Linked DNA regions of Homo sapiens: region 2 is linked to region 1. The links come from fine-mapping of genetic effects on gene expression. A gene starts in region 1. The other region holds a variant in brackets. All regions are shown on one strand. Distances are between the middles of the regions.

Region 1 (2,909 bases):
CTGCGGAGGCGATCTCGGCGCACCATGGCCGCGTTATCCCATGCCGCCCGCCGCAGCGTTGCAGAGCACCGGGCGCCGCAGAGCCCGCAGCCGTGCAGAGCTGGCCAGCAGCGGGGGCGCAGCCCGCAGCCCACAGCCCGCGCAGGGCGGCGCCGCGCCGGGCAGCTACAGCCACTCCGGCGTGCGCTGCGGCACTGCGCTTGCGAGGCGCAGCTGCCGCAGAGGAGGTGCCGGGGTGTGCTGGTTGCCGCGGCAGCGCGGAGCGAGTGGGCACCGACTTTTAGAGCCCACCCGCGCCCCGCCCCTAGCCCGCCCATCGCCGCAGAACCCCTACCGCCTGCTCCCTTGCTCGCCGCAGAGCCCCTCCCAGCCGCTCTACCACCGCCATGGCCACAAAGATGGGGTGCCCCTCTAACAGTGGCTCCTTTAGGGGGCACCTTCAGGGGTGTCGAGCCCCCTCCCCAAGACCCCGCTGCTCCCTCGTTAACCGCCAACCCTGAGCCCGAGATTCTGCTGCAGAAACCCTCCCCTGATGAGTTAAGGCCACGGGCAAAAACAGCAGACCCCTGAGTGCCCCAACTCTTTCCTTAGACCACCCACAAACCCCACAGGCCGCCCACAAACCCCACAGGCTGCCCACAAGCCCCACAGGAGGATGGCCGCTCGAACTAAGGGGCAGCAGGGCTCTGGGGTGCCGGCCGTGGCGCCTGCTCCCATCCCTCGTTCGAAGCGTGGGTACTGAACCGTGAGAGGTGGCGAGCCACGAGGGCCCTATGCGCCCTAAGCTTAACTACCGGTAACCACCAAGGGCACGAGCAAGCGGCTAGGGAGCAACAAGCTCTGTTGGACCCACCACCAAGCTAGTAAACAGATTCATGGGATGGCCACTATGGCCAAAGTTGCACAAAGTCCGGTTTCTCCCGCTCCAGCCACCGCCGCTGCGCGGGGCAGGTTTCCTTTACAGCAGCGCGACGTGGTCAGCATGCCAGACGCCTGGCCACAGCAGCGCCCTCGCAGCCCCGCTCGCTGCATGCGCCGGTCCGCGCTGCACAGAACAGTGGGCACAATTAGGAGAGCAAAGCCCCCTTTATTTACGTAAGATAGAATCACAATGCAAGGGCCCAGAGGCACAAGAAAGAGGGAGGAATTTTTCTAATCCATAATCCTTTAAAAGGCATCCCTTACGCCTTTGAAAAGTGTAGAGTATCACGAAGTGTCTGTGTTCATTTTCTGACCGTAAACTGAAATACTGGTGAACAAACGTGGGGTGCGAGCGGGTGAGCGGGGCGGCCGGCCGGTGCCCGCTGCATCCAGAGGGGGCGCTGCAGGCCTCCCTTCGGCTGCGCACGGCCCGGGCCCTCCGCGGCTCTGCAACTCTGCACCCCGAAAGGTTCGGTGCTGGACCGCGGGGCATCCAACCCGGGACCGGGGGCGACCCACGGACACTGAGGAAACTACCGCCTATAAGCCTATCATCAGAACCTCTGGCACAACACAGGTACACTTCTGCAGGGGTCTGGTTGCCCCCAGAAAAAGCACTCATGAAACAAATGCTGATTTAGCACCTACAGGGCACTAAGAACCGGGGGTGCGAAATAAATGAGAAATAGCCCCGGCCCGAAAACAACACACGGGCCATCTGGAGGGGAAGACAGACAAGAACTGCCACTTTGTAAAATTTTCCTTTTAATTTCCTAGCGACGTTTGTGGCAGTTGACCCACTCCTCCCTAACGTGTAAGGCCCTCAGAGGCAGAGCCCAAGTATTATTCACCTTTTGTAGCCCCAGAGCCCGCCACGGTGCCGGCCACAAAGCTGGCCCCTAATAAATACTGCTTGAATGAGTACAAGAATTTGAGGGCGCACAGGGGAGGAAGTAATTAAGGGGAGGGGCGAAGGGTGGTCTTGAATGATGAATAGACATTTACCAGAGAGACAAAGAACATTCCAGCCGGAGGGGACGGCTTTCGCAAAGCACCGGAGGCTCAGGGCCGCGTGTTTGGGGAAAACGGTTAGTCCTTTGAGCCGGCAAAAAATTAGGATAGCAAGAGAATTTCATCGTAGGGAATTAGGAATTTGTTCTAGAGAAAATGAGAAGCCACAGATGGATTTAAACTCTTTATGGCCTTAATTGGTTACTTAACAAAATTTAAATTAGTCTCTTTACAAGTCAAAGATTACCTATTTTAACTACCACTACCTTTTAAAGACTGAATTACTCTGCAAAATCTAAATCGGTTCTTCCAAAAAGGTAAAGGCTTTCCTATTTTAATAATAACAATAACAAAAGCCTTTGCATTATATATTTTTCATATTTATTGTTAATGGAAACTTTGAGTCCTACAAACAAATTCCACACTTTCATTCTCACCAGGCCAGAAACACCAGCATCCAAGATGAAGGCAATTTTCTGTTTATGGACTGAGTACCCCACAAAAGATCTTATTCTGAAGGCCATGGAACATGTCTACCCACATGGATCAAGTGGGCAGACTGGAGGAGAAACAGTTTAAAGGCCCTGGGGGAAGGAGGGAGCGCCAGGGAGAGCTCCTGAAGACAACAGGAATTCCAAGTCTGGCACTCGGGAGAAATCCTCCCTTCAGACATTATTGATGTCTGGCCGAGGAGTTAGGAAAAACTTCCTTGAAGGAGGGATTGAGGTTGAGATGGGCATGGAACCCAGATCTTAGGCAGAGAAAGCATATTCCTGTTTGGAAGAACCCTGAGTACAGAAGTCAGCTCAAAGATATCAGCTTGGCCCAACCAGGAATTCGCTGTGGGAAGTCTAAGAGAGAAAATGCTGGCCATAATCCCCCAGGAGCCAAAGAGTTAACGAATCTTCTAAATGTGCCTGATTTACTTCCAGAAAGGAGCTTCCTCCGCAGGGGGAGAATTTGACCCAAGGTATAAA
Region 2 (2,909 bases), 400 kb before region 1:
GAGTGGGAGGTGCCCTGTGGCCCTACCTTCATTTTCTGTGATGGTATTCCCAGTGGTTTCCTCCCTGTGGCTTTGCGGCTTAGTGGTGAACCAAGAGGCTTAGGATGCAGGTGCAAAGCCCCTCTACTCTTTAATGCCTCACTTCAAGGTGCAGGATCTTTCCCTCTGTAAACAAAGGCTTTCCTTCTGGCACTGCCCTTGACCTGCTCAGAGCTGTTCTCTGATCCTTTGGGTCTCTCTGCCCTCGTGACTGGCAGTGACCTGCTAGGCAGCAACCCCCACGCAGCAGGTGGTCCTCCAGAGCTGAGTCACCACCCCGGGAACCGTGCCCTGGTGAGGCCATCCAAGGTAGACCGGCACAGGGCGGGTGTGAGTGGCCTCTCCACCTGGCCCCTCGGTCTGGGAGGGCTCTTTCAGCTTGACAGAGAGAGCAAAGGAAACTCGGATTTTTGGCAAAGCAGAAAAACATTTTACCTGTGATCACAGTTATGGGCCTTGGTCAGTCATTTGATTTCAGCACACCCAAATTGTCCATTTACAGATACCTTGAGACATGGAAAGGGAGGAAATTTTTTAATGATGTTTTAAGATTCTGTTTGACCTCATGAATTAAGAGCGGTGAGAAGTAATAGAACACGGAGAGATACCTAAGCCATTGATTGATATTGTAGGCAATAAACAAGTGAGATTCAGATTATTTTTAAAAATTTTTTTCATGGGCACTGATGGATGTTTAAAAAATTATGACGTGTTCTGTTCATGACGCGTTCTGTTCATTTCCAGAGAAGAGAAAAATGTGGTTGCTTTTGAAAGGAGGTTTTTTGTTTTGTTTTGTTTTGTTTTTAAACGTCTAGCTTATTCATTACACCAGCGAATAGCAATGACCTCAGTCTAAAAAGCAAGTTAACCATCATCTCTCTCCTTGCCTGGGAAAAGAAGCCTTTATCTAAGTAGCCAAAAGATGGGCAAGGCTGACCACCCAGTCATTTCGGCTGATCAGGATTTTCCAAAAAACAAAAAGCTCTCTGTTTTCACAACTGAGTGACAACTCTTAGGAAATACTACCAGCTTACTCAGTTTGAGTAAGGCCATGGAGAAGTCTGGTGACAGTCAGTTGCCTGGATGCACATGTTACACATGGCTAACGATGCTGTCACCACTGGGAGCTTTCAGAATTGGAGAAAATAACACCGTGTCTCTTGCTTTCTGAACATGGAATTTTTAACTTTTTTTTTTTTTTTTTCTGGAGACAGAGTCTCGCTCTG[G/T]CGCCCAGGCTGGAGTGCAGTGGCATGATCTCAGCTCACTACAACCTCCACCTCCCGGGTTCAAACAATTCTCCTGCCTCAGCCTCCCAAGTAGCTGGGATTACAGGTGCCCACCACCACGCCTGGCTAATTTCTGTATTTTTAGTAGAGATGGGGTTTTGCCATGTTGGCCAAGCCGGTGTTGAACCCCTGGCCTCAGGTGATCCACCCACCTCAGCCTCCCAAAGTGCTGGGATTACAGGCATGAGCCACCCCATGCCCAGCTGGAATTTTTTAACTTAAAAAAAAAAAGTTTCAGTGTTTGTCCTTACCCATTATGTGCCCAGTTAGTTCTATACCAGTGAAAGTTCCCCCCAAAAGAAAAAGAAAAAGAAAAAAAAGACTGTCATTTTCTTGAGCAGCTTTCTTGAGCTCTGTGTGTGTATGCCTATGTCTGGGGCATACACAAGGACTCTGGCAGGCCCACTAAACTCTACCACGTAGTTGCCAGATATGCTGTAAACTGTCACCTGGAAGTTGGGATTTACTCTTTTATTTTTCTGTTTATTTTGCATGAGTACTGTATGTATAAAAAAGTAGCCACATATGGATGGTCAAAGGGTTTCCTAGAAATATGGATAGTCAGAGGGCTTCCTAGAAATATGGATGGTCAAAGGTATCCTAGTTTTTCAGGTAAACTCCACTAGAAACCAGAACCATATCCCAATTCCATAGCCTTTATTATTTCAGATCAATAGAAGCAGAATCAAAATGCATTTGGAGCTTAGAGGTCAATTGATTTGGAAACCACTCCGGTGCAAAGAATCTCTAGATTCATTGATTTTGGAGTATTGTTTAGGGGAAAAGGACTTTAAAGGCTGGGCGGGGAAGCTTTATTCCTTTTTTTTTTTTTTTTTTTTTTTTTTTTTTCAGAAGACATTTATGAGTTTATTGATTTGGCACATTTCCAGAGGACAATTCAGTGACATATACCAACATGTACAACAGATTCATCTTTTGACCCAACTTTTTCACTCTTTTTTTTTTTATTTTTTTTTATTTAATGTTTTTTTTTTATTATACTCTAAGTTTTAGGGTACATGTGCACATTGTGCAGGTTAGTTACATATGTATACATGTGCCATGCTGGTGCGCTGCACCCACTAACGTGTCATCTAGCATTAGGTATATCTCCCAATGCTATCCCTCCCCCCTCCCCCGACCCCACCACAGTCCCCAGAGTGTGATATTCCCCTTCCTGTGTCCATGTGATCTCATTGTTCAATTCCCACCTATGAGTGAGAATATGCGGTGTTTGGTTTTTTGTTCTTGCGATAGTTTGCTGAGAATGATGGTTTCCAATTTCATCCATGTCCCTACAAAGGACATGAACTCATCATTTTTTATGGCTGCATAGTATTCCATGGTGTATATGTGCCACATTTTCTTAACTTTATAACCTGTGTGGGGCAGGAGAATTAACCTGCTTTTGGATTAGAGGCTGCAAAAAAGCCAGTTCTGGTGACCACACTAAAAAGATTAATGAGCACTTAGCACCAAATTAAATACCCCCCTGCCCCCGCCTTTATGAAAGTGGAGTTCATAGTACAAATGTGACAGCGTTAAACATTGAAGCCATTCGAAGGAACCTGGGAAGTACTCAGG

Evidence for each region.
Region 2: its variant is fine-mapped to the expression of MESTIT1 in visceral fat (GTEx, PIP 0.97).

The regions. Positions count from the first base shown.
Region 1 is chr7:130,489,431-130,492,339 of GRCh38, reverse strand. It overlaps MESTIT1 (MEST intronic transcript 1, antisense RNA), which reads left to right and starts at 1,363. Exons shown (of 2, transcript NR_004382.2): 1 at 1,363-1,498; 2 at 2,373-2,909. MEST (mesoderm specific transcript) reads right to left here and starts at 255. Exons shown (of 12, transcript NM_002402.4): 1 at 1-255. The coding sequence starts at 26. RefSeq lists a silencer at 1,218-1,427.
Region 2 is chr7:130,891,721-130,894,629 of GRCh38, reverse strand. The region is part of intron 6 of LINC-PINT (long intergenic non-protein coding RNA, p53 induced transcript); the gene reads left to right. Among named protein-coding and RNA genes, the nearest start is that of MIR29B1, 16 kb to the right of the region's middle. The variant G/T (reference allele first, on the strand shown) is at 1,266.